3 separate regions of the Homo sapiens genome follow, and all the other regions are linked to region 1. The links come from fine-mapping of genetic effects on gene expression. A gene starts in region 1. Each other region holds a variant in brackets. All regions are shown on one strand. Distances are between the middles of the regions.

The links. PIP is the estimated chance that this variant, and not a neighbour inherited with it, causes the effect.
Region 2: its variant is fine-mapped to the expression of TMCO1 in stomach (GTEx, PIP 0.99).
Region 3: its variant is fine-mapped to the expression of TMCO1 in fibroblasts (GTEx, PIP 0.91).

Annotation. Positions count from the first base shown.
Region 1 is chr1:165,765,926-165,771,263 of GRCh38, forward strand. TMCO1 (transmembrane and coiled-coil domains 1) reads right to left here and starts at 2,943. Exons shown (of 7, transcript NM_019026.6): 1 at 2,757-2,943; 2 at 2,267-2,344. The coding sequence starts at 2,826. It overlaps TMCO1-AS1 (TMCO1 antisense RNA 1), which reads left to right and starts at 3,004. Exons shown (of 3, transcript NR_125374.1): 1 at 3,004-3,450. RefSeq lists enhancers at 2,554-3,230, 3,231-3,906.
Region 2 is chr1:165,818,991-165,824,334 of GRCh38, forward strand. It overlaps the pseudogene RPL26P12. Among named protein-coding and RNA genes, the nearest start is that of UCK2, 6.0 kb to the right of the region's middle. The variant T/A (reference allele first, on the strand shown) is at 3,188.
Region 3 is chr1:165,742,327-165,747,326 of GRCh38, forward strand. TMCO1 (transmembrane and coiled-coil domains 1) reads right to left here. Exons shown (of 7, transcript NM_019026.6): 6 at 841-985. Among named protein-coding and RNA genes, the nearest start is that of TMCO1, 24 kb to the right of the region's middle. The variant T/C (reference allele first, on the strand shown) is at 2,853.

The DNA.
Region 1 (5,338 bases):
GAGACAGGAACACTTGTTGGAAACTACTGCAATAATCCATGCAAAAGATCATGGTGCTTAGACCACAGTGGTTAACACTGGAGCTAATGAAAAGTGGTCAGATTCTGGATATCGGAAGCTTTCTGAACCTTTACTGGTTTGGGGTGTTTCTTCAAAAAGGAAACCCAACAGTATCTGCAGACAGACTAGATGTGGGTTGTAAGAAGAGTAAAAGATAACTACACAAGAATTATGGCCTGAGCAAGTGGAAGGACAGAAATGCCATTGACCAAGATAAAGAAGGCTACAAATGACACAGGCTTAGACATGAGGAACAAGTATTCAATTTGGGACGTGTTGGGACTGAGCTGTCCACCAAACATTCTAGCTGACATAACAAATTGATGCGTGGATATATGAATCTTGTATTAAGAAGAGAGGGCCACAGACATAAATTTGGGAGTCACTGGCCAATACAGCCAAAAGATAAGTTCACCAAGGAAGTGAATGTAGAGAAAAAAACTAAATTTTGTGTCACTCCCAACAACGGGAGGTCAAGAAATGAAACCATCAAGTAAATTGCAGAAGAATGATCAGTAAGGGCTGGGCACTGTGGTTCATGCCTGTAATCCCAGCACTTTGGGAGGCCTAGCCGGGAGGATCGCTTGAGCCCAGGAGTTTGAGATCAGCCCTGGCAACAGAACAAGACCTCATCTCTCCAAAATATCAGCCAGTCATGGTGGTGTGCATCTGTAGTCCCAGCTACTCAGAAGTCTGAGGCAGGAGGATCGCTTAAGCCTGGGAGGTCCAGGCTGCAATGAGCTCTGAGGGGTGACAGAGTGAGACCCTGTCTCAAAAAATAAATAAATAAATAAAAAATAAAAAAAGGATGACTAGTAAGATGGAGAGCAGCAAAACCGAAAGTATGGTGTCCTGGAGCCAAATTAATAAAGCATATCAAGGTTTCTGGCTTACACTACTGGAAGCATGGAGGTACCCATCACCAAGATAGGGAAATCCTGGAAGAATATCACGTTTGTGAAGGTAAAGATAACGAGTTTGGCCCAGATATGCTGAGGTACATAATCAACACTGAGTAAATTAAGGAACAGTAAGCTGTAATTTTAAAAGCCTGAGTCTGGTCTCTAATTCTTTGTTTGCTCTGTGACGTAAGTTGTCATTATCATCCTGAGGCTCAATTTTCTTTCCTATGACATGGAGGTAATATTTATACGAGTAACCACAAATGGTTGCTGTGTAGATCAAATATGGTAATTTAAGAAAAAAAACTTCAAACCCCTATGAAGATATAAGAAAAAGTCACAGAATACAGAAAGTTGTAGGAATTCTAAGAAACAAAAGTTATATTTAATCCTTATAAGGAAAAAAAGAAGAGAGAAAACTAAATCAGGCCTATAAGGAACCATTCACCCTGTACCTTTAGCTGAGTCCTGTGGAATTCCTGCTTTATTTCAAAGGTAACAAACCCTTCTTGTTTTTAATCTTTTCCTTAAACACCTCTTCAACTTTCTAACCCAACTGAAACTCGGCTTATCTCTGAAGACACCACTTACCTTGACACCAGTCATAATGACATATCATCCTCCAAACATGCCTTAAATGTTAAGATTTCCATATTTTTGCTCATATGTTATTTCTTTACCTGGAATTTCCTTTCCCCATTTCATTCTCTATCCAAATTCTAACTATCCACAAGGAACTGCAAGGCCATCAGCATCATGAAGGCTACCATGGTTCCTCACAACTGAATGAAGCCTCTTCTTCTTTTTTTTTTAAAGACAAGTCTCACTATTGCCCAGGAGGCAGTGTAGTGACACCATCGTGGCCCACTGTAGCCTCAATCTCCTGGGCTCAAGGGATCCTCATGCCTCAGTCTCCCAAATAGCTGGGACTATAGGTGTGTACCACCATACCCAGCTAATTTTTTCTGTAGGGACGAGGTCTCCCTATGTTGCCCAGGCTGGTGTCAAACCCCTAAGTTCAGTCCTGCCTCAGCCTTCCAAAGTGCTGGGATTAACAGGAGTAAGCCACTGCGCCAGATTGAACCTCTTCTTTAGAACCACCACAGCACATAACATGTATCTGCTACGCCCCTCACTTCCCTCTAGTTGGTATTACACATTTTGCATAAAAGTCTTCTATTTCTAAATAGGCTTCAAGTCAGGTTCATCTTTGTATCAGCTGGTGCTCTTAAAATATTTATTGTGAACATGGACTTAATGAGCTTGACGTGTTGAAATTATTTCTAATGTGTTGCCATACTCACATTTTTTACTCTGTTTTTCCACTTCTGCCTTCAGTCTCTTGTACTTGTCTGTCCTGTAAACCAGGACCCAGGTTATGCCTAAAACATTAAAAGCAACATGTTAATAGAGAAATGACTGGAATGATCACAACAAACAAAGTGGTTACTGTTGGAGAAGGAGGAATTCCAACTTTTCGCTTTGTATTTACCCATAGTTAACTTTTTTCAAAGGCTAATACAACTGACTCTTCAGCCAAAACAACAGTAACATGATGTGAAGGTGTCTCCACAAATACCCAAGTGAAATCTACCTGAGACCAAAGAAAACTCGGCAATCGACTCCATACTCCCCTCCTGCTCCTGTTCACGAGTTGCCCAGAGATTCCCTGAAGTGGAGTAGATGAGCCTCTCAAGCAAGTAAGGCTCGCGATCTTTCCCCTGGTGGCACAGGGGACCCCGGGGCCCTTCCTCCCGGGGACTGATCAAACGTCTGAGAAATACCCGCTCTCACCCTCTGCGAGCAGAGCCGTGCACACAGAGATAAAAACGATGAGGAGAGTGTCCGCGAACATAGTGCTCATCTCGCACCTTCGTCTCTGCACTCTCACCCGCCAGGGGGAAAGCGCTCTACAGCCAGGAAAAGTGAAGCGAAAACGGCTTCCGTAGACTCCGCCACCACCGAGTAACAGACCAACTCTGACAGCCCGAAGATCGCACTTCCGCTTCCGGGGCATAGCACCGGAAAGGCTCGTATCGGAGAACGGTGTGGCCACGAGAGTCTAGAGGAAACCAACCCGCAACTCACTGGAGCTGAAGGGCTGGTAGTCAGGCCGAATCTCGCGAGAATTGGAACTATTTCAGAGCCAGAGGAGGATAGTGGCGGCGGCGAACTTTGCCCGGTAGATTTTACTGACTGGGGTGCTGGCGCGCGCCTTTTTCTCGGCCAGAATCCAGTTATTGGGATAGTCTTGACTTCTACCTCAGCCCAACTTCTGTGGTCGTAATATTAGTTTAGCTTGGGTTTGCCGTGAAGTAAGAAGACTGACTTCCGCAAAGGTACTGAACGACTGGGTGTAGGTGCCAGGGCATGGACGTGAAGCTGGAACCGCGAAATGAGTTAGTTGTGGGCCGCTGGCCTCAAGGAGCGAACGTCAGCGCGAAGAGGAGAAGCTTGTGCATACGCTCTGATAAGGGTTTTAATAGAGGTATTACCACAGTGCTGCGTGACACGGTTGAGAGAGTGGTCAGAAGAAGCTAATGAAAGGAATTGAAGCAGTGCCTTAGGGGAGTAGGAGTACTTTTGGAGATAGCAAAGGACTTTCTAGGCAAAGTGGAAGTCAAAGCACGGATGCCTGAAAATTCATAGTGTGATAGTGCAGTGAGTAATGTATCTAGAGAAGGGGTCTTAAACCCAGATGCCTAGACTGGCGAGAGAAAATAAATTATCTTATGCAAGCTGAGCCTAAACAAATGGTGGAAGTTACTACGATGGATAAGTGAGCATTAAGTTCATCTGAAAGGAGAATTTGATACCCAAATCCAACCCATTTCTCTAGGAGAATGAGCACCCAGTTTCTGAGATGTCTTCGTTTCTCAGGAAAATCCAGAAATCCTGGGTTTTATGTGAAACTTAATTTATAAGTGTTGCTAACTAATTAAAATTCAAAAATGTCTCAGCAGCGTGGTTTCAGCCATTGTAGACGGTTTCAGCTTTTTCACACTGGGGTGTGTGTGTGTATGGGTGAAAACCTGGAAGCTGGCTGAGCTGTATCCTCTTGTACTTCCTCCTATCATTGGTGTTTTTTTGTTTGTTTGAGATGGAGTTTCACTCTTGTTGCCCAGGTGGAGTGCAATGGCACAATCTCGGCTCACTGCAACCTCTGCCTCCGGGTTCAAGCCATTCTCCTGCCTCAGCCTCCCAAGTAGCTGGGACTACAGGTGCCCGTCCCCACGCCCAGCTAATTTTTTGTATTTTTAGTAGAGACGGGGTTTTGCCATGTTGGCCAGGCTGGTCTTGAACTCCTGACCTCAGATCCACCCACTTCGGCCTCCCAAAGTGCTGGGAATACAGGCGTGAGCCACCGTGGCCGGCCCTCATTGGTTCTTTTAAACTGTACTGCACTTAAATATATAATTCTCCTAAACACTACTTTTGACTTTTTTTTAGCTTTATGTGCATTTCTTGTCTCCCAGACTTAGCAACAGAGACCCTGTCTCCTTTTTAAGAAACATTATTGAGCTTCTACTATATGTCAAGAACTGTGGTAGGCACTGTAGGGTCAAAAGGATGGTTAAGAGAATATTCCTGACTTCTAAGGGCCCAGGGAGATTATATAATATAATAAGATTATAGGTATTATAGAGGTATTCTTAAAATGTTGAGGGGGTACAGATGAAAACAAGATGTATTCTTCCTGGGGAGTTGGAAAGGTTTCAGAAAGATCATATTTGAGCTAGACCTTTATTTGAGCAGTTCAGACAAGGATAGGTTTTTATTCACCTTTGTATCACCCAAGGTAAGTGCTGAGATAACAATAAGAGCATGATCTTGGAAATCAGACCTGATTTTAAATTCTTGCTCTGCCACTTACTTGACAGCAGTCCTAGAACCTATTGTTTAGCATCTTTGAGCCTTCAAAATGGTGGTAACATCAGCTATGAAGACTGGATGAGGAAAAGTATATTATAAAGCATTTCAAGCAGTGCTTGGCACACACAATTCATCAAATTCAACATGCTATTCATTGTAAGACGCATCATTATTTTATCTACTACTAAAGAGGAAAAAATAACTAATTAAACCATGACACACCATTGATTGTAAGAAGAATCCCATTCAGAGATGTTAAAATATGAAAAAATGAGAAAATATGAAATATATTAATAAGCAGTTAAGTTATTCCTGTGTAAATGTTTACAACCATGGACTGCTAGGATACACTTCCTTTTCTAGGGTAATGATGTCATGACACTATGCCCCTTGTTTAAGAACAGTGCTAGAAGTCAGGCGCGGTGGCTCACGCCTGCAATCCCAGCACTTTGGGAGGCTGAGGCGGGCGGATCACGAGGTCAGGAGATTGAGACCATCCTGGT
Region 2 (5,344 bases), 53 kb after region 1:
ACAAAATATGTATGTATGCGTGTGTGTGTATATATATAGCACATTTGGGAGGATACACACACACACACACACACACACATATACACACACAGTACATAGGCCAGGCATGGTGGCTCACACCTGTGATCCCAGAGCTTTGGGAGGATCACTTGAGGCCAGGAGTTCAAAACCAGCCTGGGCAACATAGTGAAACCCTGTCTGTACAAAAAAAAAAAAAAAATTACCAAGCATGGTGGTGCATGCCTGTAGTCCTAGCTACTCAGGAGTCTGAGGCAGGAGGATTGCTTGGGGCCAGGAGTTTGAGGTTACCGTGAGCTATGATCACACCACTACACTTCAGTCTGGGTGACAGAGCGGCCAAAATGAAGTTCAATCCCTTTGTGACTTCCAACCAAATCAAAAATAGCAAAAGGCATTTCAATGCACCTTCCCACATTCACAGGAAGATTATGTCTTCCCCTGTTTCCAAAGAGCTGAGACAGAAGTACAATGTGCAATCCATGCCCATCCGAAAGGATGATGAAGTTCAGGTTGTACGAGGGCACTATAAAGGTCAGCAAATTGGTAAAGTAGTCCAGGTTTACAGGAAGAAATATGTCATCTACATTGAATGGGTGCAGCGGGAAAAGACTAATGGCACAACTGTCCACACAGGCATTCACCCCAGAAAGGTGGCTATCACTAGGCTAAAACTGGACAAAGACAGCAAAAAGATCCTTGAATGGAAAGCCAAATCTCGCCAAGTAGGAAAGGAAAAGGGCAAATACTAGGAAGAAACAATTGAGAAGATGCAAAAATAAAGTAATCTTATGTACAAGCTTTGATTAAAACTTGAAACAAACAACAAAAAAGAAAAGATACAGGCTGGGTACAGTGGCTAACATCTGTAATCTCTGCACTCTGGGAGGCTGAGGTGGACAGATTGCTAGAGTCTAGGGGTTCGAAGTCAGCTGGGCAACATGGCAAAACGCTGTCTCTATAAAAAATACAAAAATCAGCCCCGTGTGACGGCACTCAAATGTAGTCCCAGCCACTTGCGACACTGAGACGGGAGGATCGCTTGAGCCCAGGAGGCAGAGGTTGCAGTGAGCTGACATTGCACTACTGCACTACTGCACCCCTGCCTGAGTGACATAGCAAGACCCTGTCTCAAAAATAAAAGTATATATATATAAAATATATATATAATACATATAAAATATATATAATATATATGCTATATATTATATATAGTATATATAGTGTATATATCTCTACATTATATACATATCTACATTATATATAATATACATAGTATATATAGTATACTATATAGTATACATATAGTATATATAGTATATATAGTATACTATATATACTAAATATACTATATATATACTATAGTATAGTATATATATAGTATACTATATATACTATACTATAGTATATACTATACATACTATACATACTATACATACTATATATACTATACATACTATACATACTATACATACTATATACTATATATACTATAGTATATATAGTATGTATACATATATAGTCTGAGGCAGGAGGATTGCTTGGGGCCAGGAGTTTGAGGTTACCGTAAGCTATGATCACACCACTACACTTCAGTCTGGGTGACAGAGCAGCCAAAAAAAGTATATATTATATATACTATATATATATATATACACTCTATATATAGTATGTATATTATATATATACTATATATAGTATGTATATTATATATAATGTGTATATATATAATGTAGATATATACATAGATGTAGATACAGATACACACATAATTTTTAAATCTTATTTTTCTAGTTCTGATGACCTAACCAGCTGAAGATCTTGCAAACTCTCTCAGGAGAGGTACCCAAGGATCAAACCAGTCTCCTCCACCACCCTGAAAGGAGAACTTGCTTAACTGACTTTCTCTCTTCAGTTCAAGGCCTTTCCAGTTACACCAGGGTTTCTTAATCAAGGATCTTTGGAGTTCTTCATGAATGGGTTTCTTGAGCTGTCTGAACCCTTTTGAGTTATCCTCAACATTCTATTTGTGTGTGTGCATACACAGTGTTTTCCTGGGGAGTCTGTTGCTTTTGTTTGTTTCTCAGCGTCTCTGACTAAAAATATTTCTGAAACACTAGCATTCATCACTTGAAGCCTTAGGCCTCCTTGCCTAAGAACAGCTATAATTTCATTCTGAAGGAAAACCAAACTAATCTTCTCTCCTAATGACCTGGGGAGAGTTCACTTCAAGACACCAAAGTAACTTTTAGTAACATACCATGAATACTGAGCAAAAACTAATCTATCTAACCTCATTTGGCTTCCAACATCACTTGGCACCTCAGCCCATCATCTTGAGGAAAGTCAAACCTGCCATCCTTGGCCACCAGTTCAAATACAAGCCACTAGACTAAATGTAACTACTTCTCTGACATTGATGCCATCAGCAGTACCATCCTCTGCTTCTCCTCTTGACAATCACCAGAGCTCTGAGACGAGGGTGAGGCAAAGTGGGTGCCTAGGGTATGAAGGAGCTGCTCCTTTCCCACCCTGCACTTGCGTTTGCTCAACCCAAGAGTCAGTGCCTCCTCACTTTTTGCACTCAAGGCACATCCCTTGTCTCACCCTAATCCCAGCTCTATATCACCAACTATAATGCATCCATTATGACCTGATGGAAAGAGCGTCAGCCACAGGAGGAGGGAAGGGGTAGTAGTAGATTATCTGCAGAGACAGTAACCTAAGAACTAATTAGGGAAAATGAAAGAAGTCATTGCATAAAAGTGGGATAGCAACGATTAAGACTGGTGACAGGAAAAGAAGTAAAGGATCAGATATGGGTCTAGGTAAACAGGATGAAGCCAAACAGCTTAGAACATGGTGAATAAAACACGGATTCTGGGGCCTGCTCTTAACAGGTGCTGGTAGCTGGCTGGGCAAGACAATAGAACTCTTGACTTTATCTCAGCCTATTTTCAAAGAATCACATTAGAAAGTGTCCTGGTATGGGGAAGGGAGAGAAAAATCAGAAAATCTCTATAACATACAGAAATCTGTATATTAATTTTTTCAATTCTGTGAAGGCTTCTTCTTACGAGATTTCTGAAGTTGGGCCAACTAAAATTTAAGGACCCTTGAATGACTATTATCTTTGCTGAGAGAGGGTGTATGTCAAATTCAACAAAAT[T/A]AATAACCTACATTTGTGTAATGTCTTACAGGTTATGACGTTCTCTGATGCCGTCTTTTTAAATCTCAGTCATTTCTCTTTGCTTTTGCCCATTTCTGTTCCCATTTCCTAAAACTCTTTCTTCTAGCCTTCTGGTTGACACCAATTTTTTTAAAACAGCTGTATTAAGATATAATTCACATACCATGAAATTCACCAATTTAAATTGTACAATTCAATGGCTTTTAGTATATTCAAAGTTGTGCAACCATCACGACAATTTTAAAACATTTCCTTCACCCCGAAAGAAATCCTGGACCCATTAGCAGTCTCTCTCCATTTCCCACACTAACCTCCCTAGCCATAGGCAACCACAAATCTACATCGGACGGGGCCCATTCTGGACATTAATTTTTAATTTTTATTTGAAAGTGCCCCTGTAATCCCAGCACTCTTGGAGGCCAAGGCGGGAAGATCACTTGAGCCCAGGAGTTAGGGACCAGCCTGGGCAACATGGCAAAACCCCGTCTCTACAAAAAATACAAAAATTAGCCGGGCGTGGTGGTGTGCACCTGTAGTCCCAGCTCCTTGGGAGGCTGAGGTGGGAGGATCACTTGGGCCTGGGGAGGTCAAGGTTGCAAGTGAGCTATGATCATGCCACTGCATTCCAGTCTGGGTAACAGAGTGAGACCCTATTTCAAAATGAAAAAAAAAAAATACAGAAAGAAAGAAAGTGCCCTTGGGGATTAGGAATTCTTACTTTTGGAACTCCTGACCCCTAAATGGTGGATATCTGTGATAAATCAGAGAGCTGTGACAGAAATGGGGGGGGAAGGGGAAACAGTATTTATTTAACAACTACTGTGTACTAATGTGTATCATTACTTTCATAACCATCCTGTGAGTGAGTTATCATTTAGCAGTTGAATAAACTGAGGTTTATAGAAATTATGTAAGCTGGCTTGGTGTGATGGCTCTTGCCTATAATCCCAGCACTTTGGGAAGCTGAGGTGGGCAGACAGCTTGAGCTCAGGAGTTTGAGACCAGCCCGGGCAACATGGTGAAACCCCACCTCTACCAAAAGTACAAAAATTAGCCGGGCGTGGTGGCTGGCGCCTGTAGTCCCAGCTACTTTGGGAGCTGAGGCAGGAGGACTGCTTGAGCCCAGGAGGCAGAGGTTGCAGTGAGCCAAAATAGCACCATTGCACTATAGCCTGGGCAACAGAGTAAGACACTGTCTCAAAAAAAAAAAAAAAAAAGAAAAAAAAAAGAAAAGAAAAATTATGTAACCTGTCAAAGGTTATAAAGTTAGTAACAAAGTAAGATTATAAATCTTTGTTTTCTGACTAGAGCTTATTCATCTTCTTTGCACGAGAACAGTGGTTCTCGAACTTTGGTGGGCATGAGAATCACCTGGAAGCCTTATAAAACACAGACTGTGGAGCTCCACACACAGAGTTTCTGATTTACTAGTTCTGGGGTGGTGCTTAAGCATTTGCATTCCCAGATGCTGCTGCTGCCAGTCTGAGACTGCACTATGTTGTGCTGCCTAACAGTACCTGAGAATGTAATTGATTAAGGTCACAGAGCTGGATGTGACTGATTAAGGTCAGAGAGCTTTAACGTCATCCAGCCATCTTTTCAGAACAGTACTTATGATCTGACAAAGCAACTGCTGATTGATAAAAGGTGGAAAGTAATTAGAAAGGTAATACAGAGAACGATAATACTTTGGATACATGATGAAGTGTGATAACATCTATTTTTCTGGCTGGGGAATGAGATAAACAAATAGAGAACTGATCATGGTGCATGAAGCACCTAGAGAAAGAACATTTCAGTTGGGTGCAAAATGTAACGTTCCTTGTCTAGTTCAGAACTATGGCTACTCAAGGGGAGAAGGCAGGCAGACAAAGGACTGTCAACAGCAATGTCTCTTATTGTTCTTTGGCTACAGCTGCACTTGCATACTCATGCTGACTTCGTGCCCAAATGTTAACTAGGCCAGAACTTGATCAGACTGAAATCTGTAAAAGAAAAAAAAATCATCACAGATACCAAGAAAATGTATTTCCTTGAATCTGTTCTAACTCTGAATTTTGTTAAAAAATTAGATTTTTTTTTTTTTTTAGTGGGAGGAAAAGGAGGACAGCTCAAAACCACTTAATTCAGAATCTG
Region 3 (5,000 bases), 24 kb before region 1:
ATCAAGTCTCACTTCAAGCTCAAATTCCCAGGCTTTTGTGACCTTCCGACCTCGGCCTCTAGGGTAGCTGGGACTACAGGCACATGCCACCATACCCAGCTAATTTTTAAATTTTTTGTAGAGATGGAATCTCACAATGTTGCCTAGGCTGGTCTCAAATTCCCGAGCTCAGGTGATTCTCACGCCTCAGCCTACCAAATTGCTGGAATTACAGGCATGAGCCACGGCACCTGGCCACCTTTTCACTTCCATAGGCCCATCTCGAAAGCCACTTCATTCTCTAAACCTTTCTGCCTGAACCTTTCCCCACTAATCGAATGTTATAGCTCTCTTCCGGGCCTTCATAACCCTTTTACTCCTTAGTTCTCACTCTTTTTCACTACGAATGTCAAATCACCAAGTTGGCCAAATGTAAATTCTATAACCTAAACTTTATCTCAACTGTGAATAACCTAAAATTACCACATTGTTAAACTTACTTGTGCTCCTGAGCCGCTAAATGGTGCTGGTATATAATGAAGAAATGGTACTGGGAAGACCAAACCCACTCTCTACTTTTGCAGCTTTAGGCAGTTGTAATAAAGAAGGAGCCTGAGAGCTCTAAGAATGGGATGTGGAATCCATGTTTGGTTTTATCACTACTTCTCATCCCTAAGGATCAGTCATCTAGACCTACAGCCATTTAAAATGGCTTTTGGAAGATACACTGAAATTCTAAAATGAGCAACTGAAAGAACTCAGGAACAATGGGTAAACATTTCTAGTATTATAAAAGTAAAAGCTAATTGGTATGACAGCAAGGAAAAATATACATATTAAATGGTAGATGTGATCACTCACCTGTCGAATCGACATAGTACAGAGAATATACAGGAAAATGAAGGAACAGTCTGTGGTGTCATCTCCCAGCAGATTTCGATGAGACAGTCCTTGGATGTAAGAAAGAGGGGTAAAAGGAAGCTTTGCCACCACTCTACCATCAAATCTAAAAGAAAAAAAAAAAAAAAGAATTGTTATCTTTGGAAGACTGACAACTTTCTTACTTCCAAAGAAGAATCTGGGACAGAAATAGAGCTTTAAGTCTCTGATCTCTGAAAAACAAAGAGAGGGTGACATGCTAAAAATACACATGAACCTGATGTACGGTGATGTAAAGAAGAGCCTAGATTATTCTCATCAATCTTTTCCTAAATTAGTCATTCTCAATTCTTTTGGTATCAAGACCCCTTTATATACTGACAAATTATTTAGGACCCTAAAAACTTTGTGTTTCTGTAGCTTATAGTTATTAATATTTACTGTATTAGAAATTAAAAATGAGAAATGTTTAATATTTATTTTTTTTGAGACGGAGTCTTGCCGTGTCGGTCAGGCTGGAGTGCAGTGGCACAATCTCGGCTCATTGCAACCTTCGCCTCCCGGGTTCAAGCGATATAAAATCTTTTATATCTTTATATATAAGTTATTTAATTATATGAAGTTGAACATGCATGAGACTTTAAACCAGCAACAAATCTGAAAAATCTTCTGATAATTCCTTTTTTTTTTTTTTGAGATGGAGTCTCGCTCTGTCACTCAGGCCAGAGTGCAGTGTCGCCGTCTCAGCTCACTGCAACCTCCACCTCCTGCTTCAAGCGATTCTCCTGCCTCAGCCTCCCGAGTAGCTGGGATTACAGATGTGCACCACCACACCCAGCTAATTTTTGTATTTTTAGTAGAGACAGGGTTTCACGATGTTGGCCTTGATGGTCTCGATCTCTTGACCTCATGATCCGCCTGCCTCAGCCTCTCAAAGTCCTACAGGAATAGAAGCTTGTTATAAGGAACAGAAATTGGTGTCTAGCACAATAAAGAAAAAAACTGGGAAGAGAAGAAGGAAGGTGCAAAGAGAGAGATGATTTACAATAGGTGGATTATTTCTTTAAGTGCACTTACTCTATGACTCCAGAGGGCAGGATCACTGCTCACAAGTACAGATATAGGGAGGCATATTTTGGCCCAGTAAAACGAATTATTTTCAAACTCTAAAAACTACTCAATAAAAGTACTAGTTATCTCAGAAACCACTAAGCTCCTCATTGTTGGAAATAAAGGATGACAAATTATCTGTTAGAGACATTAGTGATGAGCTTTCTGTATTAGGAGAGAAGTTATGTGTTAAATGACTTTTAAGATCTCTTTCAGGCTGGGCACGGTGGCTCACACCTGTAATTCCAGCACTTTGGGAGGCCAAGGCAGGCGGATCACCTGAGGTTGGGAGTTCGAGACCAGCTGACCAACATGGAGAAACCCCGTGTCTACTAAAAATACAAAATTAGCCGGGCATGGTGGCGCATGCCTGTAATCCCAGCTACTCAGGAGGCTGAGGCAGGAGAATCACTTGAACCCGCGAGGCAGAGGTTGTGGTGAGCCGAGATCATGCCATTGCATTCTATCCTGGGCAACAAGAGCAAAACTCCATCTCAAAAAAAAAAAAAAAAAAAAAATTTCAATTCTAAAATCCTGTTATTTCAACTTTATGTAAATGATTCAGGAAGAGATGCCAAAAAGTAGATACAGCTACTAAATAAGTAGCTATATCTAGTCCTTTTTCTGGCAGTCTGGGAGTTCAAGTCCTTCCCTTCTTAGTCTAACCATAGATTTTTTTCCTTAAAGCATCTGCCAGCTGTTAACAAATTTTAAGAGTGTAAGGGATATTATTTTTGTTTGCTTCACACAGGGTCTCGCTCTGTCATTCAGGCTGGAATGCAGTGGTGCAATCATGGCTCACTGCAGCCTTGACCTCCTGGGCTCAAAGAATCCTCCTGCCTCAGCCTCCCAGGAAGGTGAGATTACAGAGGTATAGCACCATG[T/C]CTGGCTAATTTTTTTTTTTTTTTTGTAGAGCTGTGGTCTTCCTATGTTGCTCAGGCTGGTCTCAAACTCCTGGCTTCAAGTGATCCTCCTGCCTCAGCCTCCCAAATTGCTGGGATTATAGGAATGAGCCACCACTCTTGGCTTACATAATCTTTTAGTATCCCTTATAGTCTTGGCCAGGCGTGGTGGCTCATGTCTCATAATCCCAGCACTTTGAGAGGCCGAGGCAGGAGGATCACTTGAAGCCATGAGTTCGAGACCAGCCCGGGCAACATGGCGAAACCCTATCTCTACCAAAAAAAAAAAAAAAAAAAAAAATTAGCCACGTGTCATGGTGCATGTCTGTAGTCCCAGCTACTCAGGAGGCTAAGGTAGGGGGATCACTTGAGCCCAGCAGGTTGAGGCTGCAGTGAATAGTGATCACACCACTGCACTCCAGCCTGGGTGACAGAGCAAGATCTGGTCTCAAAAACAGATGATCAAAGTTAAACTTGGAGAAATTATGTTAAAGACTGAATAACTTTTGTCCAATATAATCAAAACATGTATTAGACTTTTAATTTCATATGCCAGTTTATAAAAATAGATGTACAGCCTTTAACTTCTAGGTGCTGACAATCTAAGACACAATATTTTTTTTAAATGTACAGGGTACAAAGACCAGAACAAAAACATGAATACAGCACTAATATTGGTAAAATATATTATGCGAACCTCCACTAGTTTGGGAAAACAAAACAAGCAAATAAAAAGCTATTGTTTGCCAGTGTTCTGAATAAGAAAGTTGCTGAAAATAATATACATAAAAACAAAAAAAGAAGGCCAGGAGCGGTGGCTCACGCCTGTAATCCCAGCACTTTGGGAGGCTGAGGCGGGTGGATCACGAGGTCAGGAGTTTGAGACCAGCCTGGCCAATATGGTGGAACCCCCTCTGTACTAACAATACAAAACAGAGTAGGTAGTAGGCAATGATAAGAAAATTAGCCAGGCATGGTGGTGCATGCCTGTAGTCCCAGCTACTTGGGAGGCTGAGGCAGAAGAATTGCTTGAATGCAGGAGGCGGAGGTCGTAGTGAGCCGAGATTGTGCCACTGCACTCCAGCCTGGGCGACAGAGCTAGACTCCATCTCAAAAAAAAAAAAAAAAAATAGCCTTCTTTCCTGCCAACATATCCTTTTATAAGAAACCTGATTATAATGAAGCTTTCATATAATTTTCCTCCTTGAAGATACTCTACTTGACTTCTTTGACTTCTATAGCTTGGAAGACCTATATCACACACACACACACACACACACACACACACACACAGCATCTAGTATTTTATATTGATGAACTGCAAAAATAATCTGGCATTTCAATACTGGTCCAAGGTCTAATAACTTAATCACCAAATATTTGATAAGTGCTTATTATATTATTAACTCTATTAAGGATAACATATCACATATGCTTGCATATAGCTTTGAAAACCTCCATTCTTTAAAAATTTCATAAATATCATAGCAGTGATATGGGCATTCTCTTCATCTTGTTCCCATCTTTACTGCAGTATCGTTGGTATTTTACCTTTGAGTATTTAACCCTCTTCTGGTTGTTCTAATTCATTGCACAATAGAACTAGAGAACAGTGATGGAGAGAAAGGAAGGGATGGAGGGAAAAGAGAATTTGGAAAAGATGACAATATTATTTGTCTGATCATATGATTATCTATCTAGAAAACTAGAGAATCAAATTAAAAGCTAGGAGAGTTCAGGAAGATGTCCAATTAGAAAATAAAATCACAAAAATTGATAACCTGCTGGGCATGGTGGCTCACGCCTGTAATCCCAGCATTTTGGGAGGCTGAGGCAGGTGGATCACTTGAGGTCAGGAGCTCAAGACTAGCCTGGCCAACATGGTGAAACCCCATCTCTACTAAAAATACAAAAATAAGCCAGGCGTAGTGATGCCTGCCTGTAATCCCACCTACTCGGGAGGATGAGGCAGGAGAATCACTTGAACCCGGGAGGTAGAGGCTGCAATGAGCCAAGATCGTGCCACTGCACTCTAGCCTGGGCAACAGAGAACAGTGTGAGGCTCTGTCTCAAAAAAAAAAAAAAAAAAAAAAAAAATTGATAAGCTACTTATAGACAGTAGTAGCAAAC